Regions from separate parts of the Homo sapiens genome. Here region 1 is linked to region 2. The links come from fine-mapping of genetic effects on plasma protein levels. Region 2 holds a variant in brackets. A gene starts in the other region. All regions are shown on their forward strands.

The links. PIP is the chance, under the fine-mapping model, that this variant and not a neighbour inherited with it causes the effect. The UK Biobank Pharma Proteomics Project read protein levels with antibody pairs (Olink). The fine-mapping took linkage between variants from a reference panel, not from the people measured, so its PIPs are less certain.
Region 1: LMOD1 starts here. The variant in region 2 is fine-mapped to the plasma level of the LMOD1 protein (UK Biobank, PIP 0.96).

The regions. Positions count from the first base shown.
Region 1 is chr1:201,938,157-201,954,439 of GRCh38, forward strand. It overlaps LMOD1 (leiomodin 1), which reads right to left and starts at 8,392. Exons shown (of 3, transcript NM_012134.3): 1 at 7,924-8,392. The coding sequence starts at 8,184. RefSeq lists an enhancer at 3,295-4,244.
Region 2 is chr9:93,121,059-93,136,808 of GRCh38, forward strand. It overlaps NINJ1 (ninjurin 1), which reads right to left and starts at 13,193. Exons shown (of 4, transcript NM_004148.4): 1 at 13,085-13,193; 2 at 5,352-5,580; 3 at 3,841-4,004; 4 at 438-1,172. The coding sequence starts at 13,159. The coding sequence ends at 3,850. It overlaps LOC124902212 (a long non-coding RNA gene), which reads left to right and starts at 11,954. Exons shown (of 3, transcript XR_007061665.1): 1 at 11,954-12,535. RefSeq lists silencers at 3,856-4,020, 12,738-12,987, 13,158-13,387, 13,888-13,937 and enhancers at 5,625-6,276, 9,720-10,318, 10,319-10,916, 12,398-12,447, 13,907-14,503 and 1 more. The variant G/A (reference allele first, on the strand shown) is at 11,624.

The sequences.
Region 1 (16,283 bases), not on the chromosome of region 2:
TTCGCTCTTGTTGCCGAGGCTGGAGTGCAATGGCACCATCTCAGCTCACCACAACCTCTGCCTCCTGGGTTCAGGCAATTCTCCTGCCTCAGCCTCCCGAGTAGCTGGGATTACAGGCACGTGCCACCACGCCCGGCTAATTTTGTATTTTTAGTAGAGACGGGGTTTCTCTATGGTAGTCAGGCTGGTCTCAAACTCCCCACCTCAGGTGATCTGCCCGCCTCGGCCTCCCAAAGTGCTGGGATTACAGGCATGAGACACCGCGCCCGGCCGTAATTTCCATTTTATAGGTGAGGAAACTCAGGCTCCAAGACGTGAAGTCACTTGTTTGGGTCATTCAGCCAGCAACCAGCAGAGCTGGATCTGCACCCAGGTCTAGCTGGCCCCTGAGGAGACTATTCTAACCACTAGACTCATATAGTCTGCACTCAGAGCTTCCCTGGGAATTTCTGCCTGAGGATGTAGCACCTTTCACCTGCCAGTCTCAGGGACAGGGGTCCTGCCAGCCCTGCCGGCTTGATCTCAAAGGAAGGCCTATTGAAGTAACAATCAGAAGGAGCCTGTGGGCTGTCCATGAAAGGGTGGTGGAAGGGTGTGGGAACAGGAGGTGCTTCTATTCCTAGCTGTTTGTAAACAGCATCCCGACAACCCGGCTTGTTCTTTCTGCAGTGGGCCCCAGGGACAGCTGAAGCCAAGTTCTCCCAAAGCAGCCTTGGCTTTTCTGAGCTTGTGCTGGGGTGGAAGCCTGCAGACAAGGAGAATCCACCTCAAAATCTTCTCCTAATCTCCTTTCACTCTGTCTTTTTCCAACCCAGCAACTCAGTTTGGGCCCCTGAGCCTGTGACATAAAATAAATTAGGCAGAGGCTCAAAGAAATCAGGCTGCTGGGGCCAGGCAGCGAGTAATTACATAAGCCCTGCCTCCCTGCTTTCCTTCCTCCCCTTCCCCTCTCTCTTCATCATTCCTTCACACTCACTGATGGTTTTTTTTTTTTTTAATTTCGTGAGAGATAAAATAATGTTGATTTGGCAGATATACAGGTACAAACTCTGAAGAGTTTAGAGTGAGGAAAGAAGGTCTCTCGTGATGTGCCAAACACTTTCAATGCCTCATCCTATTTAATCTTCACTATAACCCTTCAAGGATGATTTTATCATCCCCACTTGACAGGTGAAGTAATTGGGCCTCAAGAAGCTATGTTAATGAGATAGCATCGATAAAGCCTTTGGCTCCAGAAGGCACTCAATCAAGTTAATGTTCTTTCTTCCTTGGGTAACTTATTCCAAGTCACTGGATCAGTAAGGGGCAGGAGCAGAATTCAAACCTGGACCTATCTGATTCCAGACACCCCTGGGCTTTCTGTCTCACCGCACTGCCCAGACACTAACAAGCCATTGGGAGAACTGATGAACCGAATGGAGACCACTGCTCTTTTGCTGGTTAAACAAAAGTGGTCCAATAAATAAGGAAGGGCCTGATCTGGAAAGGCCTGCATTCTATGGCTCAGGATATTCCTGTTTATCCAACTTGGCAGGCATGTAAATATTAGCGTCGCCACTCCTGTCCCCCATGCATGGCGCTGTGTGTTGTTCCTCTGCTCCTGCTGTGTGTGTGTGTGTGTGTGTGTGTGTATACACATGTGTGTAGACTGCCTATCTCTTGGTGTGCTTCATTCAGGCTCTGCACACTCTGGGCCCAGCTGTAGATATGCTGACACGGTCTGACAAAGATACTCTAAAGTCTCCTGGGGGAGAGAAAGAGAGACTGAAGGAGGATAGACAGATAAGACCGGGGCTTTGTCCTCACCTTCTTGTCCCAGCCTGGGGACCATGAAGCTCCCAGAATCCCTGAAGCCTCCAGCCTTCTCTGATGCTGGGAGCAACCTCCCCTTGGTTAGTGGGACTCAGACCCCACCTCTTAACCATCTATATCCCGCTCTCACTGGTGAGCCATCTTATTTTACAAGTGCTCCTTGGTCCTGTCCATCTGTCCTGCCTCCCTCTTGCATTTTCCATCCAGCCAAGCTCTTTTTTTTTTTTTTTTTTTTTTGAGATGGAGTCTTGCTCTGTTGCCAGGCTGGAGTACAGCGGCACGATCTCGGCTCACTGCAACCTCCATCTCCTGGGTTCAAGGGATTCTCCTGCCTCAGCCTCCCGAGCAGCTGGGACTACAGGCATGCGCCACCACACCCAGTTAATTTTTGTATTTTTAGTAGAGATGGGGTTTTACCATGTTGGCCAGGCTGGTCTCGATCTCTTGATCTCGTGATCCACCCGCCTCGGCCTCCCCAAGCACTGGGATTACAGGCATGAACCACGGCACCCGGCCTAACCAAGCTCTTATACCTACTGTCCCAGTAAGGAGAAGGCAGGCACCCAGAGGGCAGCACTGAGGGTGGGAGCAGGCACTAATGCCTCACTTGCTCAAAGTCTTTTTTTTTTTTTTTTGAGATGGAGTCTTGCTCTGTCAGCCAGGCTGGAGAGCAGTGGCTCGATCTCAGCTCACTGCAACCTCCGCCTCCCGGGTCAAGTGATTCTCCTGCCTCAGCCTCCCAAGTAGCTGGACTACAGGCATGCACCACCACGCCCAGCATTTTTTTTTTTTTTTTTGAGACGGAATTCTGCTCTTGTTGCCCAGGCTGGAGTGCAATGGCACGATCTCGGCGCACCGTAACCTCCGCCTCCCGGGTTCAAGCAATCCTCCTGCCTCAGCCTCCCTAGTAGCTGGGATTACAGACATGTGCCGCTATGCCTGGCTAATTTTGTATTTTAATAGAGAAGGGGTTTCTCCATGTTGGTCAGGCTGGTCTTGAACTCCCAGCCTCAGGTGATCCACCCGCCTTGGCCTCCCAAAGTGCTGGGATTACAGGTGTGAGCCACCGTGCCTGGCCATTTTTTTTTTTGTATTATTAGTAGAGATGGGGTTTCCCCATGTTGGCCAGGCTGGTAAAATTCTTTTTTTTTAATTTAATTTTTAATTTTTTAGAGATGGGGTCTTGCTATGTTGCCCAGGCTAGTCTCGAGCTCCTGAACTCAAGTGATCCTCCTGTCTCAGCCTCCCAAAGTGCTGAGATTACAGGTATTAGCCATCACACCTGCCCTCAAAATTCTTTAAATATTATATACATACAGAAGAAAACGTATAATAACAATATTTAAAACAAACACCTGTGGATTGTACCACCTAGTTTAAGAAACAAGCAGTTGCTTTTTCAAACTCTGGATGGAGGCAGTTTCAAATTTCAGGGCGAGATTTTAACAGTCTAACCCTCTCCGGTGCCTGCTTTTGCCTCCCTGGGTCAACAGGCCCCCGTCACCTCTTCTGCCCTCTTCACCCTAGCCTCCAGGGCTATTTTGGGTGTGTACCAGTTGGGGTTAATCTCCTTAAGCATTGAGCCGTGCTGCTCAGTGCACTCCTGATAGGTCCCAACCCTCTGCAAAGGGCATTCTGAGGGTTAGGCCGCCGGCCTCGGGCCTTCCCGGCCCCGTAGAGATACCATGGACACTGAGCTGTGAACTAGAACCGATGGGGGAGGGGGCTGCTGAGGCTGTGCAGGCAGTGGGAGTGGAAGGTCAGGAGGGCTCAGGCCCAGCAGCCGCTATTAGTAGGTTGCTTCGGGTTTGCTTCTCGAGTTTACCTCTAGGGAGAGCTTTCCTCCACCCCCACCAGCTCAGCTGCCCTGACCCTGGCTGGGTACAGGCGCTAATCCCCAGCCCCTGCTAACACCAGGGAGAAGGGAGGGGGAGGCAGGCTGGAGATTTTCTTTCCCACTTGGGAAGGAAAGAGGACACACAAGTTGACCGGTTGGGATCCGGTTCCTGAAACCTGAGACAAGGACAAGAGTTTCACTGAACCGTTGGCTACAGCTTGCCCAGGGGCTTTGTCTTCTACCTGGGCTGAAGGAGAGTTCCCGGATGATTAGGGCGGAGCTACACTGGCTGACAGGTCTGGCCCTTTAAAGGGAGGGAGAGAAGCTGGGGTCAATTCTTCCAAGTCCCACCTCTACCCTCCCCAATCCCCTGCTAACATTCACTCAACAAACAGAGGCTGAAGGCCTGCTGTGTGCTGGGCCCTGCATTTGCATTTTGCCCTCCAAGTCCCACAAGCTGGTGAGTGAGACAGCCCAAGAAAACAGATGATTATACAAAAGTCATGTCCCAAGGGCTTTGGTACAGACTGGTATTGGAGCGCTCAGACAAGGTGCCTGACCTTGAGGGAGTCCTGGAAGACTACCTGGAGGAAGTGGTACCTGAGACAGGCAGAACAAATAGGAGTTGACCTGGAAGAGGCAAGGGTGGAATATTCATGAAAAAGATGGTAAACAATCAGGAGGATCTCTGGAATATCCCATCCCTTGGAGGGAGACCCTGGAGGGAGAAGCAGGCCAAGGGCCCTCTGGCAGCCTAGACTCACTTTGCACAATAGCCAGAGTATGCATCTTGGGGCTGTCCTTCTGGGGAAAAGACAGACCTTAAGACTGTCTTAAGGCCAACCTCCCAATGTTGGTTTCTTTCTTTCTTTTTTTTTTTTAAATTTTATTATGAAAATTTTCGAACATACATACAAAAGTAGAAAAAATAATATAATGAACACCCATGTAGACCCATCACCCAGCTTCAACAATTGTCAACTGGTGGCCAATCTTGTTTCATCTATATATACCCCCACCCAGATTATTTTAAGGCTAATTCCCAAAGCCAATAAATTTTTCCCATAAATATTTATGTATTTATGTCTAAAAGAAAAGAATCCTTTAAAAAGTATATCTGCAATGCCATTATCACACCTAAAAGAAATTAATAGAAATTCCTTAACAGCATCCACTATCTAGTCAGGATTTACTTTCCCTAATCCACACTTAGTTTTTCTAGTTATGTTCCTACTCATGGGGGCAGGGAGATGAACATTTGACAGAAGACTATTATATCAGCCAATATAAGAATTTGTGGTCTCTGCTCTGTAGCACTCTCTGATGGTTCTATCCATGTGTGTTTTGCATGGAATCTAATTGGATTACAAATTCTTCAGGGCAGGGACTGACATTACTGTCTTTTTTGCACCCTAGTATGGCAGAGAGGAAGAAGCACTGATCTCAACTAATTAGCTGTGTGACTTTGGGAAGGTTATTCAACCTCTCTAAGATAATAGGAATAAAAATACACATCTCCCAAGAATCGTAAGGCTTAAAGAAAAGGTGAATGTGCTCGGCATGTAGAAGTTTCTTAGTAAATGCTCATCTTGCTTTACTCTCTGTTTTGACCACTTTTCAGTTCCTCACATGGAGTGAAGGCCACCGTCAGTGAGGGCTGCAGCCAGGCCAGCAGCCTGGAGTCCACCTGCCCCCAGCACGGTGCTGTGTCTGTGGTGTTGGTGGTCCCCACTCTGAGCACCCAGGGGTTGCTTGTTTACTCGGGCCACTCATTAAACTGACAGGTGAGGCTTGCACAGCCCTCAGGAAACTGAGGGAAGAGAGGGGCTGGACAGGAGTAGAGATTTGCTTTCGGCCCACTTCACCGGTTTCTGGGTTCCTTGACTCAGATGAAGTAATAATTTCATAGCTGGCCTTGACTGAGTGTTTATGACACGCCAAGCTCTGTGCTAAGTGCTCTACCGCAGCACCGCTTTTAGTGTTCACAACCCTGTGAGATGGGTACTACTATCCATATTTTGTAGGTGATGAAACTGAGGCTTAGATTAGGTAACTTGTGACTTACACAGAGACACCATTACTCAAACCAGGTTTTTCTAATACTTAAATCCAAGTTCTTGGCCACACACTCACTATTTTGTTAATGGTGCCAAAGAAGCCACCTTCTAGGGTTCATTCTCACCCAGATTTACAGAGATGACTTCTGCCCAGGCTCAGCATGCACCCCGAACTCCAGCCAGCCATTATGCCAATGTACGTCCCTGGACAGGGTGAGGAAGAGTGAGGGGATCAGAACAGCCTACATCCACAAGGGAAAACCGGACCTAAAGGCATCTCCTTACATCAAGGATGTACACACAAACACACACACCACTTCTATTTCTTGACTCGGGCTCTGTCCGCAGAACCAAGTGTGGACCTGGCAGGGGTGAGAGAGGTGAGGCAGGGGAGGAGACACTTGTCACGGTATTAACTGGCTGAATAAAAAGTCTATGATAGTGAAATTTCCAGGAACAGGAGAATCCTTCACACTCTTGCTTGTGATTAGACTGCTTTGTTTGACTTCAGCCTCAGGAGTACCTTTCTGAGCACTGGAAGCTACCGGACACAAGGCAGTCATGGGCCCAGAGCCTGCGACTGGGAGTGGGGAAGAGCAGAGTCAACGATTTCCAAGGGTGCCAAAGCCTTTGGCTGCATTTCATTTCTTTCTGTATGATTCCTGATAGCTGTGTTGGGGTACCGGGCCCTCACAGTAAGTGCTACCACTTTTTCTGTAAATGTTTTGGTTTTATTTATCATTATCATAGCTGCATCTGGGGCAACCACCTTGTGCATACAGGACAATAAATTCCTGAGCCTCCTGGCTTCCCTCCTTCCTCCCTCCTTCTCCCTCTTCTTGGCAAAGGCTTAAACATAGGTGGTGGGGCGGGGGGGGGCGGTAGGGACAGAGACAGAGTTCCAGCTCCTCTTTGCTTCACCCCCTTCCCTCCTCCTCCCTTCTTTCCCATTGCTACACTAAAGGAGTCAGGGCTGTGTCCACCAATATGCTCTGTGACTAGCAGTCAACACAATTTCATACCCAGCCAGTCATTCCGCAGGCATTTTGGATGATAATGTTCCCATTCTCAGTTCCTCTGTGAGAATGTGCATGTCATTTGAAGCTCTGTGCCTCAGTTTCCATAGAAGTAAAACAAAAAGCAAGAATTGAGACTGATCTTTTTCTTGCAAGAATTCACAAGTAATGGATAATGTACAAGAGATGTGGCTGAATAAGAGAACTAGAACAAAGACTTGAACAATTTTCCTATGCAACACTCTTTCCCATGGACAAAGGTATCCCACAAAGTCATACTTCATCGGAGGCTAGTTTGTCCAAAGAAAACTCACATACCAATGCAATAGTGACAAAAAAAAAATTCCTCCATGCCAACTCAGGAAAACAGAAAGCAAGTTGTGCTTAAGCCCATTGTAGGTGTGGGCAGATGCTTCCAAAACCGTCACCCCTTTTCCCTCCTCTATGACTATCTTCAACCCCCAGCAAAGCGGCCTCGCCAGCTGCTAAAGGGTTAATTACCAAAAAGAGGGCATGCTCCCTCCAGAGGCTCCTCTGGAGAGTGCAAAAACAAAACAAAACCAAAAACCAACTAACCACAACAAAAAACATCTTCCCTGGGAATAAATTTGAAGCTTATCAGGTCTTTAAGCCACATTTCCCAGCCCATAGACTCCTGGTCCCTGTCTCCCTTTGCTTTGGGAAACTCATTTACCCCCAAGCCTCCTGAAATGATCCATGTGCCGTGAGATGCCCATAGGGTTGGGGACTTGAAAATGAGTTATTCTCCCACAAAAAATGGCTTAGCTTTGTCTTTTTGGGTGGCTGACAGGAGACATAAAGTATCACTCTCTCTTTTTACCCCTCCTCACAATAGGATGGAATGAGTGTGGAGAAAAACAAAGGTATTGTGGGACCAGGATGGAGTCAACTTGACAATGGACTCTTCAAGGACACCTTCCAGCTCCCATTCTACTAGTAGCTCTATTTGATTTTGTGGGATGTTGTGTTCCTCCAACATATCCGACTTCTGCTTATAAAACAGAAATTAGGAGTAAGAGATTCGCACCGCTAGTTCAGTGGATAATCATCAGTTCTGAAGCATTAAAATCCTTTGCCAACAAGAACGTTTCTTCTAAGGAAGGAAGCATCCTAATCATGAAGCCAGGGTCTCCAGCCCTCCCCTGTCTCCCTCCTCCCCTCCAGGGCTGTGCTCACTCACATCCATGGACATCTCCCTCTGCATAAGTTTCTTGGTCTCCTTTTCACAGAAGTTGAGCATGGCCTCCCGGTTGTACACACCCGTGGACTGTTTCTCCGTCTGGTTTCTCTGCCGCAGCCCCACGGGAACACTCCCGTCTGGGTCCACCACGTCCAGCTCCTTCTCCAGCTCCTCCATCTCCTCGGGAGACAGGGTCTCCAGCAGGCTGTCGATGTCGGGGTCTTCACTCACCTGCCGGCGATATTTGGCTACTCTAGACATCTTGGCAAAATGGGCTGTGGCTGCCAGGGGCTATCAGAGTCCTGGTGGGCAGGGAAGGGAGAGGGGTGAGCTGATCTGGATGCAGCGAGTGGGCTGAGGAGCAAACCTCCTGCTGGTCGAGGACTGCAGCTCCTTGGCCCTTCTGTGCTACAGGTGCTGAAGTGTTCACTGGACGCAGCAGCCTCCCTGAAGCCCAGGGCTAGTGGACCCCGGCTGGTCTAATCAGCGGCCAATAAGACCCGACAACTGCCAGGCCCGGAGAGGAGAAGCCAATCCCCAAGCTGGGGGCGGGCCTACCTCGCTGTCAGAGCTGTTTGAAACTTGAGGACATTCCAGGGAATCTTGGAGCGCTGCGTGACCAAATTTAGTACAGAGCAGTTTAGCCTTTTAAAGACAAGGGGCCACGCAATGAGAAAAAGATACAAAAATGCGTAGGCTGGCAGAAGCAGATCACAGCCACGGAGAGCCAGACAAGCAGGGACGAGGCCATGAGGGCCGGTGAACTCGCCAGCCCGGGGCACGTTCAAGAGCGTATTTTACTACTCCATCACCGGGTGGACGTATCACTGTGGTCAATGTGTGGTTCATGGACTTCCTTCTACAGTATTTGGTAATGTGCTGGGGGGCTCCCAGGTGTATACAGCTCCAGGAAAGTCTAGATTCAAGATGAGGAGCTGTTACTCCTAACCCCCTGCCTACCCATTTTCTTTCTACCCAGGTTCTGCCAAGGAGGACCTGAAGGCTGAGCATCAGAGGCTCCAGGATCCTTTGGCCACTTCTTAAGAGAGAGACAGGAGACAGAAAGACAAACTTAGAGATAGAGATAGCTAGGCAGGAGAGGGAGAGAGAGAGAGAGAGAGAGAGAGAGAGAGAGAGAGAGAGAGAATAAATCCTTACTGTGTACCAAAACTGAAAACTGGCAGGCTGTTTGGGAAAGAGAGAAGGATCTGCAGAAGTCGGGAAACTCTTAAAGGGCTGTCACTTTCCATGAAGTTCCAAGGCTCTTGGGAAGAGGGTTCAAACCTCCCCCTGTTGTCATCTGTTTCTTCCTCTGCCGGGCATCTGTAGACAGACCTCCTTTGGGAGCACAGAGGCAGGTCACCACCCACATATAAATCCAGAGCACGATTTAGTATGTCTTCAGGGAAACAGAATTCTGGGCCGTCGGGAGAGATACGATTGCAACAGGTCTGGCATGTTTCATAGAAGGGCTTTCCACTGCTCATCCATCATGCTGCCCTGCACAAGTCACAGAGACATTCAATCCCCTGCCCCCCTTCCTCCTGCCACAAAATCCCTTCTAGAAGCCCTGGTGTAACCCATCAGGGTAGATGCTTCGATCTTTCCTGGCATCTTTCCATCCTAAGCCAGAGAGAGACAGTCACTTGATCAGCATTTGCTGAGTCCAGGGATCGTCTGGGACTAAAACTTGGCCGTGCCATTTAATGTCCACTAGTCCAACTTTAGGTTAAGGCTGAAGAGGGGAATGGTGTCCACTGGGGGGACTGAAGGGCAGAAGGAAGGCAGGCAGACTTGATAGGAAGAGTGGAAGAAGACTTTAGGGAAACCTGGGGGTTGTCATTTTAAGAGTCAGTAGCCAACTTATTGGTCAAACCGTAGGTATATATTTATTGAGTGATTTATCAAGTGCCTATTATATATCAGGCATTGTTCTAAGAGCAAGAGATATCACTAAAGATACAAAATCAGGCCAGGTGCAGTGGCTCATGTCTGTAATCCCAGCACTTTGGGAGGCCAAGGCAAGAGGATTGCTTGAGTCCAGGAGTTCAAGAACAGGCTGGGCAACATAATGAGACCCCCATCTCTCCAAAAAAAAAAAAAAAACAAAATTAGCCTGATGTGGTGGTGAGCATCTGTTGTCCCAGCTACTCAGGGGGTTGAGGTGGGAGGATTGCTTGAGACCAGAAGGTTGAGGCTGCAGTGAGCTGTGATCACGCTACTGTACTCCAGCCTGGGCAACAGAGTAAGACCCCATCTCAAAAAAGAAAGAAAGAAAGAAAGAAAGAAAGAAAGAAAGAGCGAGCAAGCACAGGGGCTATGGGAAAACACAACAAGAGGAGGCTGAATAGAAGTATGATTTAACAGTGAAGAGCTTGGGCCTTTGAGGCCAATAGACCTGTATTTGGTCCTGGTATTGCTACTTACAGGCCATGTGACTTGGGCAAGCTACCTTCTTTTCTGAGACTTGAGTTCATCATCTGTAAAATAAGGACAACAGTTATACCAACCTTATACAATTGTTGTGAATATTAAATTAGGTCCTACACATGACAACATTTCATTGATATACCCAGTACATGGTAAACACCATATTTATTATTAATTATTATAATTATTTATTTATTTATTTATTGGGAAACTCTGTTTCACTCTTATTGCCCAGGCTGGAGTGCAATGGCGCGATCTCGGCTCACTGCAACCTCCGCCTCCCGGGTTCAAGCAATTCTCCTGTCTCACCCTCCCAAGTAGCTGGGATTACAGGCATGAGCCACCATGCCCGGCTAATTTTGTATTTTTAGTAGACATGGGGTTTCTCCATGTTGGTCAGGCTGGTCTTGAACTCCTGACCTCAGGTGATCCACCTGCCTCGGTCTCCCAAAGTGCTGGGATTACAGGCGTGAGCCACAGCGCCTGGCTATAATTATTTATTTACTCTTGTCCTGGGTTCTTTTCTTCCCATCCCACCTTTTCTCTCATCTTTTTATTTCTTTCTCTCAAGAGTAAACACCCTCTAAACACACACACACACACACACACACACACACACACTTTCTCACCTGGTTCTCATTCATTCATTCAAACATTTATTCAGATACTACTATTTATATATAGCATCCTGCCAGGCACTACAACATTGTCATTACAACATTGTTATTCTCTTAAACATGTATAATTCAATGGGGTAAAAAATAATAATAACTACACTGTAAGGCAAAGTGAAGCAAGCTAGAGAGGTACAAGGAGTCTTGCAGAGAGGTCCAACTGTTAAAAAACCCAGTGGAAGACACATTAATTTTGTGGGGAGGAGTCAGGGTGGTCATCTCAGAGGGCATAACAAAGGGTTTCAGCCATGCTGGAGTGGGCTTTTAGTTAGGTATGTTGGGTGGACATGGCACTCCCTATGCCCATCCCCTCCCCCTGTACCCCCTTTGGGTCAGCTGGCCTTCACCCTCAGTGTTGCCCAGAAAAAAGCATCATCTTCTGGGGTCCCTGGCTCTAGGACCTCAGCCAACCTCTAGCCTCCCAGTCAGCTGAAAGCAATTCTCTTTCTAGTTTCCAAGGACTCTTTCTCAGGCTTTTTGCCAAAAATATTCACTGCTCCCTGAGGAGCAGTCAGGGCCTAAAAGCAAATCACTACCTTCAGCCCCAGGGTTAGCCCTGTACCATCTGGTTTCAGTGGTTTTCTTTTTTGGGCCCAGTGGTCTCTGCTCCAGGAAGACACTCAAAAAAATAAATCCATAGCTTTCAAATGTAAAGGGCAGGACTCATGCCTCCTAACCAAAGGTTTCTACACATTAACCCCAGTATCTTCTCTGTGTCAGGTCTCCCAATTCCAAATCGCTGGTTCTTCTGACATGACTCAGTCAGAAGCTTTTTACTCCCTGGAGCCCCAAGAGCTCCCTGACACTGCTCACAGACTCCAAAAGTCTTCCCTTGAAAGGCATCACAGCTGGAGCTGGAGGATTTGGGAACCCAGAGGCCAGGGAGTACAGCCACCTCCAGCCCCTACAATGAGAGGCCACTGCCCGACCCACTCTGTAGGGAGCACTGGTTGTTCCAGCTCAGAATCAACTTCCACCTGAAACAAATCCATCCTGGGTATCAGGACCCTGGCCGTTGTCTATTCCCCAGAGAAAAACAAGCACTGTTGTCGCTAGAGGGATGGGGAGAGAAAAGAAGGAAAAGAGACTCAAAGCTCCAATCAAAATGTGGTGCAGGGCAGGAGGGAAGAATGAGGATCCAGAACCAATTTAATTAATGCTTAGGTGGCTCTCAGTTGGGCTGAATGACCCCAGGAAAGTCACATTTTCAGGAATATAGGGTGGCAGTATAGTATAGCAGATAAGACTACAGGCTCTGGAGTCAAATGACATGGGCTCAAATCTGAGATGTGTGACCTTAAGTAAGTTATTTAACCTCTCTGAGCCTTAGGCAATGGAAAATGAGGATATTAAGAGCATCTACGAGCTGGGTGCAGTGATGTGTGCCTGTAGTCCCAACTACTTGGGGTGCTGAGGCGGGAGGGTTGCTTAAGCCCAGGAGTTTGAGTCCAGCCTAGGGAAAATGTGAGACTCGTCTCTAAAACAAAACAAAACAAAACAAAACAAAACAAAACAACAACAAAAAACCAGACCGGGCATGATGGCTTATGCTTGTAATCCCCACATTTTGGGAGGCCGAGGAGGTGGGATGAATGTTTGAGGCCAGGAGTCAAGATGATCCCAGGCAACAGAGTGAGACCCCATCTCTTAAAAAAAAAACCTTGTCCAGGCACAGTGGCTCACATCTGTAATCCCAACACTTTGGGAGGCCAAGGTGGGCTGATCACTTGAGGCCAGGATTTTGAAACCAGCCTGGCCGACATTGCAAAACCCCACAAAAACTAGCCGGGTGTGGTGGCACACACCTGTAATTCCAGCTACTTGGGAGGCCGAGGCACAAGAATCACCTGAAGCTGGGAGGCAAAGGTTGCAGTGAACCAAGATCATCCCACTGCACTCCAGCTTGTGACACAGTGAGACTGTCTCAAAAAATAATAACGAAAATAAAATAATCTAAAATTTAAAAAAACCCTAATTCATAGTTATGGAATTATTGAGCATATTAAATAAGATAATGCATGCAAAGTACTTAACAGCATCGGACATATTTTAAGCACTCACTGATGCTTGCTATATAGTTAAATTATATAGCTATATGTATGTGTATATACATGCAAAGATCAGGAGATATGCTGACATAGAATGACTATGGCAGGGTCCTGAAAGAGACCACAAAAGAGAGAAGTTTTCACACTGGTTCTTTCCTTTTGGGGGATGCTGACAGTTCCCCTAGAAGGCAGCAGACTTTGCCTCTGGGAGCAAGCCACTGGCCTGGCCCAGCACTCCTGAGATGAGCAGAAATGGGCAGAGGAGAGCTCAAGACAGAGCACAGGCCAGACTAATGTCTTCCTGAGAGGAGAGCAGTGGGAGGAAAAAGGGGGCAGCAAAGAGACAAGAGATTGCCTCCTTCACCTCCACCAATGTTACCTAAGCTAAAACCCCTCTGTCTACCAAATCAGCCCTGGTCACAAACTAAAACCCAAACCCAACAGGAGGCTTACTTATCCACGCCAATCTGAATTTCTCCATGACATGGACCAGGTGGGACTGTGGGTTTGGTGCCATGTACATGACCTGTGACTTAGTGGATGGAGTTCCTTAGGCCACAGCAGCCTCTGGCTCAATGAAGCTTGATCTACTGAGTACCTGGACCACATGGGGCTCTAGCAGCAGTCCTATCTTGAGCCCAGAACAGTAACTTTCAATAGAATATACACTGGTATGTTGAATCAGAAGTTCAAACGCCCTTCACCTTTATGGTGACTTTTCTCTCAAGGACCTCCACTGCTTTCTTCTACTATGCCTTCGTATCATTGACCATTCCATCAGTGAGGGCCACCACAGTCCCTCAGAATTCTTTAAGACTAACTAGGGGGAGATTAGAGTACCAATCCTTCTAAACCTTTCAAAAGGCTTCTTTTGAACCCTTTTCAAAAGATTTCTTCACTTAGCACCCTGGAACCAAATGGAAGTGAATATTTTTGAGAAGACGTGACATCTTTCTCCTGGGCCTTGCCCAGCCAAAAATGTTCTGTTATCTGTTGCAATTAAAAGAGAGCAAAGAGTAAGAAGTCTCTTTCCTTAAAGTTTCTTTGGCCACTTGAGCGGAGCTTCCCAGAGCAGTAAACTCCTTTAGGATAGGGACTGTTGGAATTAAATGAGCTGGGGAACCACAACCTAGAAACTGGACTTCAGCTTTGTAAACTCCGAAACTCATTATCACTGTGATGGTTAATTTGATGTGTCAACTTGAGTAGGCCATAGGGTGCCCAGATTAAATGTTGTTCTGGGTGTGTCCATGAGGATGTTTCCAGATGAGAATAGCATTTGAATTGGTAGACTCGGCAAAGTAGATTGCCCTCCTCAGTGTGGCTGGGCATTGAAAAGGCCGAAGAAAGAATTTGCCCCTCTTTTCCTGCCTCACTATTGAGCTGGGATATCTCATTTCACCTTCTCCTGCCCTCAAACTGGGATTTACATCATCAGCACCCCTGGCTCTCAGGCCTTTGGACTTGGACCAAACTGCATCACTGACTTTCCTCCATCTCCAGCTTGCAGACACAGATTATTGGACTTCTCAACCTCCATAATCATGTGAGCCAACTACTCATAATAAATAAATAAATAGGCTGGGTGTGGTGGCTCATGCCTGTAATCCCAGCACTTTGGGAGGCCCAGGTGGGCAGATCACGAGGTCAGGAGTTTGAGACCAGCCTGGCCAATATGGTGAAACCCCCATCTCTACTAAAAATACAAAAATTAGCCAGGTGTGGTGGCGCACACCTGTAGTCCCAGCTACTCGGGAGGCTGAGGCAGAAGAATCACTTGAACCTGGGAGGCAGAGGTTGCAGTGAGCCGAGATCACGTCACTGCACTCCAGCCTGGGCAACAGAGTGAGACTCCATCTCAAAAATAAATAAATAAATATTAATTTTATGTATATATATATATATATATATAGAGAGAGAGAGAGAGAGAGAGAAACAGAAACAGAAGGATATATATATATTTGCACACAATAAGATATATATATGTGTGTGTATATATATATCCTCTTGGTTCTGTTTCTCTGGAGAACCCTGACTATTCCTGGTGATTTAGTCAAAATAACTGATCTCACAAGAGGCAGATACATAAGCCAGTATTAACTACCAAGTGGAGAAGAATAGTTATAAACACAGGCCAGGGTATTCTCTTCTATATCGAAATCTATTCAGAAGCCAAATAAGAAGAAGAAGATTGCATAATAAATATGGAATAAGAACAAAGGGAGGTAGCTAGAGCTAGAGCTAAGGGATATTTTATCTGGGTCCTGGTGAGAGTGCAAATCTCTAGTTACTAAAATATTTATACCCACCAGGTCTTCGGTGCTGACTAAATGTCAGATTCCTGCCCTCTGAATTCCTCCATGTCCCCTCTCCCACATTCTCTCTTTGGCCTGTACAATTAAATAGAGTTAACTATTCTTAATTACAGTCACATTCTGAACACGTCTTCTCCACCTTACACACCCAAATCAGATAACTAGTATGAACCATTCTCACGTGCAAGACACATTTATTGATAATCTTTAGTTCCATGGAGGGTTCGATTCATCTGCTTACTTTATTTCCAAGCTTTTGGAGAGACCCTCACTCCTCTTTGCAGTCTTCCTTTATTTATTTATTTATTTGAGGTGGAGTCTCGCTCTGTCACCCAGGCACAATCTTAGCTCACTGCAACTTCCACCTCCCACGTTCAAGCCATTCTCCTGCCTCAGCCTCCTGACTAGCTGGGATTACAGGCAACACGCCAGGCTAAATTTTGTATTTTTAGTAGAGACGGGGTTTCACCATGTTGGTCAGGCTGGTCTCGAACTCCTGACCTCGTGATCCGCCCGCCTCGGCCTCCCAAAGTGCTGGGATTACAGGCGTGTGCCACTGCGCCCGGCCTCTTCCATTATTTATGACATTGACTTTTCCGTAAAATAAATATATACATATTTTTAAAGTTAATTACAAACGTACAGAATGGAGAGGAGCACTTTAACAGCCATCACATGATTGGGATTTTGTTGACAGTAAACTAAAAGCTCCATGGGTCCCAACCTTTTTTTTTTTTTTTTTTTGACAGTGTCTCACTCTGTCACTAGAGTGCAGTGGCATGATCACAGCTCCCTGCGGGGTAGATCTCCTGGGCTCAAGCTATCTTCCCGCCTCAGTCTCCCGAACAGTCAGGGCTACAGGCACGTGTCACCACGCCCGGCCTGGTCCCCAT
Region 2 (15,750 bases):
GCATGGCTCCCAGCTCCCCTGTGCCCAGAGAATGTCCCCGCTGACCACAGGCATCACTGGACACCACTGCGGGGAAGCAGCAACTTCAAACTTGGTAGAGGAGAGACTCAGGGGCAGCACCTCAAGGCCTGTCCACAGGCGGGGGCAGGAAAACAGTGCTGGAAACATGTGAGGGGGAAAACGACGCCGCTCCCCACCTGACCCTGCCTGGGTCAGAGGTCACTAGGGGCTGCTGATGCCAGTGACCTCAGACTTCCACCTCTGTGCCTCCAAACCTCACCCCAGGAGATGTCAGGAGCCAAAGAGCTCCCCAAGCCAAGATTCTGGAGAAGGCGGCCCTGGCCAGAACCGTGTGCTTCTGACGCCCCTGCAGGGCAGCTGGAAAGGGGACAGGGAAGCCAAGGCCGGTCCAGCCCCGGGAACAGGGAGATGGCATGTGGAGCCTGACAAAGAGCGTGGGCTTTATTGTTCATTCATGATTAGAAAAGTGGGTGCTGGGACCCCCGTGGAGGGGGTTGGGCTCTGCCCGGTCACTGCTGGTGCAGGGTATATACAAGGTCTACGGCCCTCACAGGCCTGACTGGCTCCCTCTTGATGGCCACCAAGCCCAGGCACTTAAGACCAGAGCCAGTGGCCATCCGTAGGGCCAAAGGCAGTTCTGGCTGTGCAGGGTCCCTGGGTTAGGAAGTGGACAGAGGCTGGGGTCACCAGGGCAACCCGGACAGGGCCCACGGGAGGCAGGGACGCTGGTGCTTTGGGAGAGGGAGAGACATCTCCTTGTCCTTCTGGAATGTCCTGAGACAGAGGCTGGCCCTGGTCACTCATCCAGCCCATCCACGGACCTGCTGTGTGTCCTTGAGTGGGTCGAGACCCTTCTCTGGGCACAGGTCTCTGCAGCTGTCCAGTTCTGACCCTCTGGGCTATTGTGGCCAGCCCCCATGTGCCAGGAGGGAGCTGCCTCCTGGGAACAGCTGCTGAGAGACAAGAGTGGCCTCCTGCGTGGTGCTTGGCCGCAGTCAGAGCAAGGGCTGGTCCGGGGACATGGTGCAGATGAGGCCAGCCTGGGCTCTGGCAGTCTGGGTAGTGCCATGTGCAGGGAGGTGGACACCTCACAGGTATGGCGACTCCTGGGGTCGGGCAGCTGAGTTGCAGGGCAGGCAACATCCAGGGTCCTGGAAAGGAGACAGAGGAGAGGCTCTGAGCCTGGAAGGAGGGAGAGGAGAGGCTCTGAGCCTGGAAGGAGGGAGAGGAGAGGGTCTGAGCCTGGAAGGAGGGAGAGGAGAGGGTCTGAGCCTGGAAGGAGGGAGAGGAGAGGGTCTGAGCCTGGAAGGAGGAAGAGGAGAGGGTCTGAGCCTGGGAAGGGGGGAGAGGAGAGGCTCTGAGCCTGGAAGGAGGGAGAGGAGAGGCTCTGAGCCTGGAAGGAGGGAGAGGAGAGGCTCTGAGCCAGGCTGTGACAAGCCCCGAGTGTCAGGGCCATTTGCACACCCGGACTCAGGAAGGAGAAGAGCCTGATTCTGACATGAGAGGTGTCAAAGTACTCCATGCCTCAGTTTCCCCTCTGAAAATGGAATGAATATAGCATGGCTGGGTTACTGCCAGGACTTAGAGGCCTGGCCCAGCATGGGGGGCTCGGGTTGGGCAGCTGTGACCATAGCCACCCACGAAGCCTGAGACCTCTCTGACTGCTCCACGCAGGACACACAGCAGCTTTGGCCTCCGAGCCTCTGAGGACAGCTTTAAGGTCCACTGCTGGGTCCCCACGTGGCCCACAGACGCAGCACCCTCTTCCCGGCAGGCAGATAACTCATGCTTGGGAGAGTTAGGGACTGCATTCAGCACACACAGCAGGTGATTAATAAATGGCCTGGCCACATGCCCAAGCCAGGGAGCAGCTGACATCTAGGTGTTCTGGAAGAGGACAACTTAACTACAAACTGGAGGCAGCATCTGGACAGTGACTCGGACCCCACATGGGGCCGCCCAGATCCAGGTCCTTTCAGGAGGGTGACTTCAGGCTCCACGGCCGGGACATTGGGGGCTGGCGTGATCCCACTGGGGGAATGGCCTTGGGTGTGGTAGGGGAGCTTGAGAGGCCATGGGCCACTACGAGCAGCGGTCACTCGTTGGCCCCCGTGTGGGGAGGGGTGAGGCCAGGTGGATGCAGGGTGCTCCCAACCCAGCTGCTGGCCCCAGCGCCCCACCTCATCCTCACTATGCCCTCTTGGGGAATTTTTTTTTTTTCCCGAGATGGAGTCTCATACTGTTGCCCAGGCTGGAGTGCAATGGCGTGATCTCAGTTCACTGCAATCTCCACCTTCCAGGTTCAAGCGATTCTCCTGCCTCACCCTCCTGAGTAGCTGGGATTACAGGCATGCGCCATCACGCCTGGCTAATTTTGTATTTTTAGCAGAGACACGGTATCTCCATGTTGGTCAGGCTGGTCTCAAGCTCCCGACCTCAGGTGATCCGCTTGCCTCAGCCACCCAAAGTGCTGGGATTACAGGTGTGAGCCACCGTGCCTGGCCTGGGGAAATTTTTATATATCCTTGACACACAGGCGCTCTGCCCCAAGAGCACTGCTCCTGTCTACTCTGCCATGGGCCACCACTGGTGGAGAGATGGCCACCTGCCAGGAGTGCCCACCCCTCCCTTAGCAACTCACCTCCACCTCTGCTACAAACCGGAGGGGTGACCCCTAGGCCTAAGGTCGCGGGGACTGTGGTGTGTGGCCCTGGCCTGGCTGCATGGACTGTAGTGTGTGCACCATGTGGCCCTGGCCATGGCTGCATCCCAGGCCTTCCTGTGGATCCTGCTCCCAGGCTGTGTCACTGGGCAGACGCTCACCCTCTCTGAGCAAGGACACAGGGAGAGGCTGTATGTGGTGTGAGAAGTCTTCCTACACTGGGTGCCTCGTCCTGTAGAGACAGCCTCAGTCTGCATCCTGCACACAGCCAGGGTCCAGCCTAAGGCAGGCAGCTAACAGATTCTGCGAGGCCCGGCAAGGGGCAGACTTGAAGAGTCACAAGGGCTCCACGTGACAAGATCCTGAATCCCACCGTCCTGGTCAGAGTGGCACAGTGAGGTGGGCATGTCAGGCAGGCGGTCATACCAAGGTCCCTTTTTCTCAGACGAGGGCTGGGAGGAAGCTTCACCTGCTAAGTGGAGCTGATAAGGGGTGCAGAGCCCCTGACTTATCAAGAGAAGCCGGAAATCTTTGGGTTTTGGGTGTTTTTTGAGACAGAGTCTCACTCTGTCGCTCAGGCTGGAGTGCAGTAGTACGATCTTAGCTCACTGCAACCTCTGCCTCCTGGGTTCAAGCGATTCTCCTGCCTCAGCCTCCTGAGTAGCTGGGACTACAGGGATGTGCCACCATGCCTGGCCACTTTTTGTATTTTTAGTAGAGACGGGGTTTCACCCTGTTGGCGAGGCTGGTCTCGAACTCCTGACCTCAAGTGATCTGCCCGCCTCAGCCTCCCAAAGTGCTGGGATTACCGGCATGAGCCACCGCGCCTGACCCAGAAATCTTTTTTTTTTTATCGGACAGACATTCTGAATGTATAGAAATCTTACGTTTAAGTGAGTTCTCCAGGATGTTCAAATGGTGGCTCCTACACACATTCCATCTAAACACTGTGACCACAGGACCCCAGGTGGCCAGCACCAGTGGCAGGGCTGGCCTCAAGGCAGTGGCCAGGCATTGGCCTTGTAGGTGTGGACGAGGATGCCCATGGCCTAGGAAGGTGTCCAAGGCTGGCCGGCCAGGGACTCACCACACTGCAAGAGCCTCCAACAGCGAGCAACCCCAGGACTGCAGGCCTCGCGCCCCATCTCCCAGCTCACCTGGGTGTCCTACTGCTGGGGTGCCATGTCCATCAAGGGCTTCTGGACCCCGAAGGCCGTGATGAAGATGTTGACTACCACGATGATGAACACCAGGCCCGTGGCCAGGTTGTTGAGGAAGTCCAGCTTGGCGTGCTTGGCCGGGTTGTTAAGGTCGTACTTGACTGTGGGCGAGAGAGGAGTGGATGGTGCCAAGGGCAGCCCAGACGCAGCGCCCCAGCCTGGGACAGTGGAAGGGGACCCACCCCAGCGGTCAAGCTGTCCTGGGACATTACAGGGCTCTCAGTCGCATTTAGGATGAGTTTTGTCGCCCAGAGAAAAATACATCTGTTTTGCTGAAACATGGACAACAGCGCCCCTGGCTTGGGCAACCCCACGGTCTATGACCCCACCTTCTGTAGCCCCCATATTTTCCTTATACGAATTGAAGCTATGGACGTCAACCAAAGGCCAGGTTTGGGCAAATGCACTGAGCCCTTTGCGTGCCTTAATCTAGTGATTCCTGCCACAAGCTGCAGTTCTATTATGATGCCTGTTTTATAAGTGAGGCCCGGGAGGTTCAGCCACTTGCCCAAGGTTACGCAGCCATGAAGGGGACCCTGGGCCCAGAAGGTAGGACTGGCATGACTGAGGCCATCTCATGGCATGGGTCAACAAGAACCCGGTGAAACACCTGCCCTAATGCCCACAGGCCAGGCCCTGACCCCACTCTGTGCTCTTTCAAAGTGCAGGGTGGGGCCAGGCACAGTGGTTCATACCTGTAATCCCAGCACTTTGGGAGGCCGAGACAGGAGGATCACGTGAGCCCAGGAGTTTGAGACCAGCCTGGGCAGCATAGCAAGACCCCGTGTCTACCAAAAATAAAAAAATTAGCTGGCATGATGGCATATAGCTGTGGTCCAGCCTACCTGGGAGGCTGAGGCAGAAGGCTCGCTTGAGCCTGGGAGGTTGAGACTGCAGTGAGCTGTGATCAAGACACAGCAAGACCCGGTTTCAAAAACAAAACAAAACAAAACAAAACAAGGCTGAGCGTGGTGACTCATGCCTGTAATCCCAGTATTTTGGGAGACTGAGGCTGTTGGATCACTTGAGCTCAAAAATTCGACTGGGCAACATGGCGTAACCTCATCTCTACAAAAAATACAAAAATTAGCCGGGCATGGTGATGAGCGCCTGTAATCCCAGTTACTTTGGGGGCTGAGGTGGGAGGATCGCTTGAGCCCAGGAGATGCAGCTTGCAGTGAGCCGAGACTGCGCCACTGCATTCCAGCCTGGGTGACAGAGGGGGACCTTGTTTCAAAAAACAAAACAAAACAAAACAAAAACCAAAGTGCAGGGTGGGGGGAGGGGGGGTGCCACTTCCTGGACTGCATGTCTGGGTGATGAGGGCCAGGAACTCGGCAGCTCCTTGAGAGCCAAGTGTGCAAGGTGGTGGGCACCTGTCCCAGGCGATGCGAGCAGATGCCAGCAAGGTGAGCAGGTGGCCTGGCTGCCCCCACCTGGGGACCTACCAAGGAAGATGAGCAGCACCCCCACGCCGATCTGCAGCACAAGGGAGATGGAGATGAGGACCACCAGGGGCACATAGAAGGCGAAGCTGGGGCCCTGTTCCACGACGGCCTTCAGCTGGGACGCGTTGGCCATCAGCAGCGCGATGTCCAGCATGCTCTCGGCTGCGCTCTTCTTGCTGGCGTAATGGTTCACGTTGATGGGCCCGTGCCTCCAGCCCCAGCGGGCCGGCTGCAGGGAGGGGAATGGTCAGCAAGGCGGGTGGGGGAGGGGGGCAAGGGCTGTGCCTGAGTCGGGCTCTGGGGGTCACCGGGCCCTGCAGGTGAGGGCTTCCCTTGCCCCCACCCCTGGTAAGTGCTCAGACAGAAGTGCTTATTACCCTAAGGAGAGGCTGCGAGCATGTGCTCAGCCTTTATAAAACCTCCCCTAGGAATACGGTCCTGGAGAGAAAGGAAACGACATAGCAACCTTAGCACACGCACTCTGATTTTCCACTGGAAAGCATTGCCCGATCCTCCCACTCCTGCCATAGGCGGGGCTGCTCCTCCCTGCCTGCCCCTACCGGTCTGTGCCCCCGGCCTCCTCTCCCCCTCCCCTCAGAGTCTGAGCTCCTGATGCCAGGAAAGGAAGTGACGTGTGGGCGGACAGATCTGTGCACACCGGCCCAGGCAAGAAGCAAGTCCTCCTGGGCCGGACCTAAGGGCAGAGATCGCCCCTGCCACCTCCCAACCTCCCAGCCTTGGGGCCCAACAGGCCACTCGCCTCCAGGCCTCAGCACAGGCCTTGCAGAACTATTCGGCCATTAGCAGCAAGACTTCACTGAGGTGGGCCACCCAGAGCCCGGCCCCGACACAGCAGAGGCTCAACAGATGCCTCAGCATACGACATACAGTGGAGCTTAGCTTCCACATTACTTCCCAGAGTAATAAAATGGGAATGCGAGTTCTGATGGAATCCTCTTTGCCTTAGGGGCCTATCTGGTCAGGGCCCCCTGCAGTTCTCTCGAAGCCCCCAATGCCTTTCCCTGGTGCCAGACACTCTCAAGCTCCAAGGCCCCACACAGAGGCCACTGCTTCCAGGAAGCCTCCCAGGACTTCCCCTGGCAGGACATGGCCCTCTCTCCTGCCACAGGAAGGTCCTCTCTAGGGCTGGCCCTTCATTCCAAGCTAAGTACCAAACTTCCTCTTTCTCTGGAGCAAGAGTCTGCCCCTCTCAAGCTGCCCTGGTGGGGCCCTCTTCAGTCACTCAGGACAAACCTGCCAGCCCCTTGGCCCGGCCCTTTGTCCACAGGCGCCCCTGAGTTGCCAGGCCCTAGACCACAGCCTCCCAGGACTGGTCACCTGCTTGGAGGCAGCTGTGAGAACCCACTGCTGGCAGCCAACCTCCTGGGGCCCTCTCTGGGAGATCCTGTTTCCAGACTCATGAAAGATGCAGGCCGGGAGGCCGGGGTGCCGCAGGGCCACAGGGAGGGGCGGACATGGTATCCATCCAGGCCTCGACTTTCTGCAGGCTGGAAAAATACACGAGGCAGCCAATACAGAACCAGCAGAGGGCAGGGGCCTTGCTTTCATGCTGCGTGTTTTTCAGTTTCATCTAAAATTATGTGCCCAGGAGGAAGAGAGTGGGCGTCAGGGGACACTGGTGGGCTCTGCTGCTTACACCTGGGCCTGGGAATTCCAACAACCTGCCTTCAGCATCAGCTGCTCTCTAAGTAGCAAGTTCACGTGGACACATGTGCGCACAGGGACAGCCGCCTTTACCTGGGCCACCCAGCAGCGCTGTCCCTGGGGCCCTGGTGTGCTCTCGGGTCACTCCATGCATACCCCGAAGCCTCTATGGGGTGTCTACTTTGCCTCTCCCACCCTGGGCCTGACGCTGCACTCCCTGGGATTCCCCCAGGCCCCAGCACAGCCAGGGCACTCACCAAGTGAGAGGCTGTGTTCCTCTCCCATTCTACAGACCAGCAGATTGCAGCTTGGAGGAGGTTTGCCCAGAGCCACCTCCCAGGACTGTGTGTCCCTGTCCCACCACTGTCCACTTAGGGGCTTCCTCCCAGGCTGCCCAGGGTCTGGGTGAGGACAGCCCGGACACAAGGGCCTGTGCCTGGCACTGAGGTCGTCTCCAGTTCTGCTCTTGCGAAGCTGCCCAGTGGGCCACACCCCATCACACGTGTGCTCCGCAAGGTGCAGTGTCCCAGGGGCTGCTGGCCACAGTGGGCATGTGCTCCTAAGTTTCACAAACCTCAAGTGCCAAAGTGCCTTCCTTCAAGGCCACCCTTATGCTCATTCGGGTCTCCATCCCAGGACTTGGTGCTGGGAGAAGGCCAAGTGCAGACCCCGTGAGGATTTCCACCTTCTGGGGGCATCTACACATATATGTGCGTGTTCCTAGTCACAAAAGCACAGAAACACACATCCCCCAGAAAGACACACATAGACGTGAGACACACATGTGCACACAATACGCACACACAAATACACATGCACATACATACATATGCACACGTACATAAACAGACACACAAGCCCAGGCTAACTGTGTTGGCCTCTGGGCAGGAGGAAGAATTCCCTTTTTTTCTGAGCTCTGCAGAACCATTTAAATATTTCACAGCCATGCAGTCACGAGGAACACTCAGATCCATTAAAAAGCACCATCCGCGCAGAGCCTCCAGCTCCCCAAGCCTCAGCTCTCAGCACCCCCAGCCACGAGGAGCCTGTGCCCCTGCTGTCCTCATGCCCACTTAAGGTGGGTAAACTGAAGCCCAGCAAAGGCGGTTCCTTACCCAAAGCCACATAGCAAGTGAGGGCTTGGCTAGGATTTGAACCCAGGCCCCGGGGCTCAGAAGCTCTGGTAGCTGATGCCATTGTCCCTTAGGGGCTGAACTCTCAATGGCTCCCTGCTTCAGGCTCCAGCTGTGTCCGGACAACTAGCCCCACTTTGTGCCTCAGTCTTCCATGTGTACCACGAGGCTGTGGAGCAGATGCCCCAGGATGGCCTCTGAGCCCCGAGTGGCCAGCAAATGCCCTGACCATGCACCCCTGCTGGTGAAGGGCACTTCCAGCCCATCCGGCCATCTGCTTCCTGTCCAACCTGCAGCTAGGGAAGCTTCTGCATGCAGGTCAAGCCCTGGCTCACCACAGCCCAGCCCGTGGCCCTGACGCAAGCTCCCCCTCCGTTGGCCTCAGTCTCCCCCTCCGTATATCTAGGGTTGCACCTGGGAAACTCCTGCTTACCAAGGGAGAGGCTGTGTTCCTCTCCCATTCTACAGACCAGCAGATTGCAGCTCAGAGGAGGTTTTCCCAGAGCCATCTCCCAGGACTGTGTGTCCCAAAGCATAGGGCTGCCCCAGGATACAGCATAGCTGGCAACCACCCCAGGCAGCAGGCCACATTGGGAGCATCATGTGGAGGGGAGGGCAGCAGGGACAGTCTGCTTCCCTGTCCCTAACCTTGGTACTCTGGGCCTTGGAGCCCTGAGCTGACCACCACACAGGAGGGTCCCAGGGAGGACGATCCCACTCTCCCCCAGTCCTGGGCACTTGCCTCTATCTTGGGATGGGCCTGAGGGTGGCCGGGGGACCCAGCTACCACAGGTGAGGGAGCCCTGTGGTCCTGACCAGCCAGCAGGAGCTGCCAGGAGCTAAGCCCTGCTGAGACCAGTGCCCATGGCTTGGGCAGGGCAGGGAATAAACACCCTGGTTAATAGATTCCCAGAACCTCAGCAGCACTCGGGGCCTGGGGCCAGGCCAGATATATTTCCTCTGAAAGCTAGGAGGGAGGCTTGGTGAGGAGGTCAGCTCTGTGTAGGGGCGTGGCTGGCTCCTCATGCAACCTTCTGTGGACGGTCGGCCTCCCCACTGCAGGCTGCACATGTTGGGGCTGGGCCACACGGTCGGTCCTAGGGCCACTTCAGTGAGCATCCTCAGCTCAGGCAGGAGGGGCTGGCACAGAAGTGGGATATGAACCAGGCTTGCTGCATCCACCGGCCTGGCTCTGGCCATAGCATAATGGGTGTTCTGGCTCACCCAGGGCTTGGATGGGAGGAGACAGGGTCGGGGCTGTGGGCCCACAAATGTGGTGATGCATATCAGTCGCCCTTTCCAGGGGCCTGTGAGGAGTAGGGCTGGAAGCTGCCACAGCACCTCCTTTACCCCCCGAGTCCTGCCTCAACACTGACCACTCTATGCCTCAGTTTCCTCATTTGTAAAATGGGTAGACAAGGATGTGGAGGGGACTGAATGGGGTGGTCTCAGATGCCCCGTGGCTGGTGGAGCGCATGGCAGTGGGTGGCAGGGCTGTTTTCCTTGATGCCTGGCTCTCACTGTTTTGAAAGACTCTGCCTCCCCGACCAACTCCACTGACTCAAAAGCAGCTGAACAGGCTCACAAAACAGTCACACAGCAAAGAAAGGACAGCCTGGGGCACAGGTTCTCCTGTGCTGAGCAGGACCCAGGGGGACAACAGGGACGAGGTGCCTGCCCTGGGTGCCTGGGGGGTCCCAGTCTACACCTTGGCTGCTCGCAGCCTGTCCTGCTCACTGGCCCTAACCCTTGGACTCAGCAGGCATTGGCAGATGGTGGGGCGACCTGAAAATCAGGCACCCCTCTTCTACCCCACCATATGCTAGGACCTGCCTGGGGCTTCCGGCATCCCTTGTCTGACCCACCAGTGTGGGCATGAGCTGCTGTGCCCATTCCCCAGATGCCACACAGACAGGCAGGGCCTGGCACTGGAGCCCTGCACCGTCTCCTACCGGCCAGCCCAGGAAGCAGGCCCTGAGAGGGTCTCCCAGCTCCATGTCTGTGTTCCTGGCAGGAAACCCCAGCAAGACAGCAGGAAGTGCTGGAAGGCGGGGTTCCCACCACAGCTGGGCCAGGCAGACCCACTTCCCGCGGACTCAGCACTGGCCACGAGTGGCCCTGAGACCATGTTAGGGTTGCCTTTTAGAACTTGGCCCAGACCCTGCCGGCCTCAGGATCTGCCAGGAAAGCGGAAATGAGGAAACGAGCAAACCTCCTCCTGGGCAGCTGAGGCCATGCACGGCCCAGACGGCAGGTATACAGGGCACAGCTACCTACCTCCAAGGACCATGCCTCTCGGCCCAGATGTGGCCCCAGGAACCTTCAACCTGCGGGCTGTGAGGGGCAGGAAGGTGTGGCTGGCACCAGATGGCCGTGTCCTAACCCCATCCCCACCACCTCCCTGCCTTGAGACACCCTGGGGATAACAGATTCAGGCCATTTTCACATTAACATTGTTGTTTACTATTCCTTCTGCTGACAGCCACAAGTGAGCTGACTCAATCCCTGGACACTGATGGGGGCCCTCACATGAAGGGCCACAGGGGCGCAGGGCACACGGGGTAGGGGAGACCTGAGAGCTTCCCACGGCCGTGGCCCAACAGAGCCCACCCAGGTTGGAGTTCCACGTGTGGCTCCTCCCTGAGCCTTGTCCACCCTGGGAGGTGAGCAGTTGTGCCCCATTTTACAGAAAAGGAAACTGAGACTCTCCATTTTACAGAAAAGGAAACTGAGGGAGCTGGGCAAAGCGCTGCCCTCTCCAAACCACTGCCAGGGGTCACCAGTGGGAGAGGGTCTCCGTGGCAGGCAGAAGGATGAGGGCGCTGAGTGCTGGCCTGGCTCTAAGCACTTCATATACATCAGCTACTGAGTCCTCACCACTCTCTATGGCAGGCACCGCGACCACACCCATTTCACAGATGAGAAACTGAGGCACAGAGTGCTGACATGATGTGCCCAAGAAACGGAGAAGCAAGGTCTTGAGGTTGGGAAGAGGAACAGGTGTGTTGGGTGGTCCTGGGCCCCCAGGCTGGGTGAGCAGAGCGGCCCTCGAAGTTTTCTACCCCTCAAGGGGAAATGTGCTCATCCTCACACTGGCTCATAGCCTTTCCACAGCTCCCTGGACACCAGACCGTGATCAGGCCTGCAAGGCCCCTCCCATCGGCCTGGCTTCCCATCCCCCCACCTCCTACCTGGCCCTCATGTGCTCTGTGGTCCAGCCTCTGAGCCTTTGCTCCCACTGTTCCCTCTGCCTAGATGCCCTTCCACACATCTCAGAGAGCCAGATCTGCTCACCCACCTTCCCTGCCCTCCAGGGCTCAGAGCCAATGTCCCCACCTCCACAGAAAGCCTTCCCTGACCACCATGCCCCGCCCCCCACGATGGGCTCCCAGCCCCCAGGGAACCCCCTGCTTTGCCCTGGCCTCTCCTGCCCTGTCTGGGCTGGGCTGCTCTCCAACCGCGGCTTGGTGGGGC[G/A]GGGCTGTGTCTCTCTCCCTCTGGTGCCCAGAGCCAAGACAGTGATCCGGGAACAAATCCAACCCAATCTCCTCTGGGCTTGAGATGCACCCATCTCAGGAGGCACAGCCTATCCTGCCGCCCGCAGAAGTGAGCAGAGACTGCTCTGAGTGGAGGGCATTGCCCGGGCAAGGTCAGGGTTGGGGGAGGAGCAGTATCCCTTCCTTTCCAAGGCGCTTCCAAGCCACTGACCTGTTTATTACCTGACTTGCTTTCCCCACTTCCCTGAAGGCAGGAGAGACCCTTTGTTCTCTCTTTATAAGACCATGTCTAAAAGGCCCAGCGAGGTGTGGCAACTTCCCAAGGACACACAGCCGGAGGAGCCCCCTGCCTATTGCTCCAAAGTGCTCACACACTGGGGCAGGGCCAGGTCGCTGGGGTCCCGCACACCGGTCAAGTCCTGCAGTGCGACAGCTCCTCTCTAACCTAGGAACAAGTGTCCATGCAGCCCCAGGGCCATCCTATCCCGTGGCTCATGGGGCCCCGCCTCCCCGAACATGTCCTGTCCCCACAGCACCGGCCTAGGACTGTTCACCAGCGAGTGGGCAGAGTGTCTTTGCCCCAGTCTGGTCCACGCCATGGAGAGGCCTGGAAAAACCCAACAGGCTGCTGTTCCCTGCCCCCATCCCTGAGGGGGTTAGAAAAGGAAAGAATGTTCAAAGTAAACAAGTCACCAGAGGGCCATGCCAGGACCTTGCAACAAACACAAGGTGCTCAGTAAGTGCTGAGTCCTGGGATGAAGAATTCTGAAGCGGGACCACTACCAGGGCCTGCCCCCTGCCCACAGCCCTCCCAGGCCGGGCAGGGCAAGTTCTGGAGGGCCGGTGGCGGCATACACTGAAGGCTGTGTGACGTTTCTATTTCTCAAGGCAGGTGAGTGGAATAGGGACCACAGCGGGCCCCAAGTTCCCCCATCAAGGCACGCATCAGATTGTGTGGTCAGCGTGGGGTGACGTAACTGTCTGCATGCAGCTGGTCTGGAGCCCGGAGGCTGTGACTCCCCTCCGCCCGCCTCCGGGCAAAGTGCGCGGAGGAGCCGGCACGGCGAGGCTGAAGTTAGAGAGGCCCGCGCGAGAGTGGGGGGGAGGTCGGGAAAGCCGGGCGCCGGCAGTCCTTAGCCCGAGGAGCTGCGCCGAGGCCCCCTCCGCCGTGCAGCCAAGCGCGGGCGCTGCTTAGTGGGGCTGGGGACGCCAGCCCGCCCTGCGCCCCCACGCCCCCTCGTCCCGCCCACTTGCCGGGGGTGGCTGGAGCTCCCGGGGGCATCGTTCTGACCCTGATGGGGCGGGAAGGACTTGGCCTAGAGCGGGACGTCCCCCAACACTCTGCAGTGCGGACGCGGCGCACACAGGTGCCCGGGGAGCCGCGGCGCCCCGAAAGGACAGGGCCTGGCAAGATCATGCAGCGGTGGGGGGAAGGTCTTACCGAGGCGTCCGGGGAGCCGGGTGTGCCCGGAGGCAGGCCGCCGTTGAGCTCGTACTCCTCGGTTCCCGAGTCCATGGTGCGGCCGCCCAGGCCGCCAGGATCCGGGCCTGAGCGCGCCCGAGCCTCAGCCGCAGGCTCCAGCTGCGCGCCCGCCCCCGGCCCGCCCCCGGCCCGCCCGGCGGCGAGCTGCTGCCCCAGACTCCGCCTCCACCCGGGGCGGGCCCGGGGCCTGGAGGCTGTACGCTGAGAGCGCGCAGTTTGGGGCGACCCCAACCCCTCGGGCCTGAGACGGTCCCGCGGGGCCCCACAAGGGAGGGGGCGCGACGCCGATGGCCCCAGAGGACCCTGCGCTGCGTCTTGCTCTGAACCTCCGTCGCGGACACTTTTAATCCACAAAATGAGGCCAAGAACGACCTTTCCCTGGCCACCAGGCAAACTGCATGAAAGCGAGCGGGCGTTGCCGCTGGCGCCCACGCTGGGTTTTTCCCAGGCGGGGTTCGCCCTGGGAACCGCAGATCGCTCCAGCACAGCGCCTGCTGCGCCCCTAGTAACAGCGTCAGAGAGTCCGGGGTTCCCCTGATTGCGGGCCACGCTGACACAGGGCTTCCCACTCCCTGACCTTAGGTTTTCCTGCCTGGGAAATGGGGGTTATGAGGGCACAGACTGCTGGAGGGGCTGGGGGAGGCACAAAGGGGATGAACGTGCGCTGACTCATGGGCCCATCTGTGCCACCTGTGGCAGGGGGTGGGCTGGGGGCAGCACAGTGCCCAGAGCCCTGGCCAGATGCTAGGCGGGCCCCCACCTGTTGTATGATTGAAGTGGTTGTTTGGTCTCTGTTTCTCCATATGTTCATTCCTCAGCACTTTGCCCATCTGGGGGCCTGGGGGTCGAGAGCATGTGGCGGCCACCCTGGGAGGCCAGGGGAGTTCATCCTGACCACAGCATAGTCAGCTTGCGGCAGTATGGCCACTCTATTTCCAGAAGGGCAGTGGAAGGAAGGCCAGCTCAGACCCCAGGCTCTGTCCAGTCAGGCTGCCACCGGGACAGGAGGTAGGAGTGAGTGGGCATGGGCAGGGCAGCAGGATTGCGCTTGCCCTGATCCTCCAAACGGGGTCATCCCATGAAGGAGGAGCTGTCGTGGGCCCACTTCACAGCAGAGAAACTGAGGCTCAGGCTGTCACTGCCCCAGCTCTGCCTCAGAGGGGATCTGCAGGACAGGGTCTGGCACGGTGGCCCACGACGGGGATGGTTGCTGTTGTCCTCGCATAATCAGGGCACTGTTGGCACACCTGAGTGTTCACCAGCAGCTGGAAATCCAGCACCATTCACACAAAAAACTCTCTCACAGTATGGGACAAATCCCTATTCTGGGGGATAGTGCCTGCCCACGAGGGCTCAATTCCTGGAGGGGCAGGAGGTGTGGGACCACAGAGAAAATACGTCACACCCAGAAAGGGCCCTGGGAGCTGCAGGGGAGCCCTGAGACCTTGGAAGGCCAAGGGCGTGTAGAGAGGCCCCGAAGTAGGAGGGCTTGGCAGGTGGAGACCCCGTCCTGAGAGTATTCTTTCCTTTGTGCCATGTGGGAGCTCCTGCAGTGTGGTTCATCATTCCCATCCTTTTTTTTTTTTTTTTTTGAGATGGAGTCTTGCTCTGTCGCCCATGCTAGAGTGTAGTGGTGCGATCTTGGCTCACTGCAAGCTCCACCTCCCGGGTTCACACCGTTCTCCTGCCTCAGCCTCCTGAGTAGCTGGGACTACAGGTGTGCGCCACCACGCCCGGCTAATTTTTGTATTTTTGGTAGAGACAGAATTTCACCATGTTGGCCAGATCACCTCCTGACCTCAGGTGATCTGCCCGCCTCAGCCTCCTAAAGTGCTAGGATTACAGGCATGAGCCACTGCGCCTGGCCCCATTCCCACCTTCTAAGAGGAAGCCGGGAGGGTCGCAGCACCAGTGACAGTTGGGACATCAGCCTCGGGGTTTGTAAACCTGCTCTGTGCTGGCCGTCTGAGACCCTCTCCCAGCCTCAGTTTCCTCAGCTCCTGGGGCTGCTGGCAGGACGTGTGGGTGTCAGGGCTCAGGCAGGCTGCAGCGCTGGAGTTCCCTCGTCTGCTCCGTCATCCTCATTTGAGTATGTAGTGTCTGTTTTCCCCACTGTGCTCAATGCTGTTTACCCAACTGTTCTCTGCTGGATCCAACCCAGGACAAGTCTTAAAGGCACAGTGTACCCCGTGTCACCTCCATCTACCTTTTTTTTTTCTTTTTTTTGAGATGGAGTCTCGTTCTATTGCTCAGGCTGGAGTGCAGTGGCGCGATTTTGGCTCACTGCAAGCTCCGCCTCCCAGGTTCAAGCGATTCTCCTGCCTCAGGCTCTCGAGTAGCTGGGACTACAGGCGCCCGCCACCACGCCTGGCTAATTTTTTGTATTTTTAGTAGAGACGGGGTTTCACCATGTTAGCCAGGATGGTCTCGATCTCCTGACCTTGTGATCTGCCTACCTCAGCCTCCCAAAGTGAAAGGATTACAGGCGTGAGCCACTGCACCGGGCCCAACCACCTACTTTCAAGTTCTCCTGGAGACCATGAGTGCATGAGCTGTCCAAGACCAGTTTCTAGACGCTGACCCTGAGCTGAGGGACATGTCCCCAGGAGAGACACAGAGGAGGG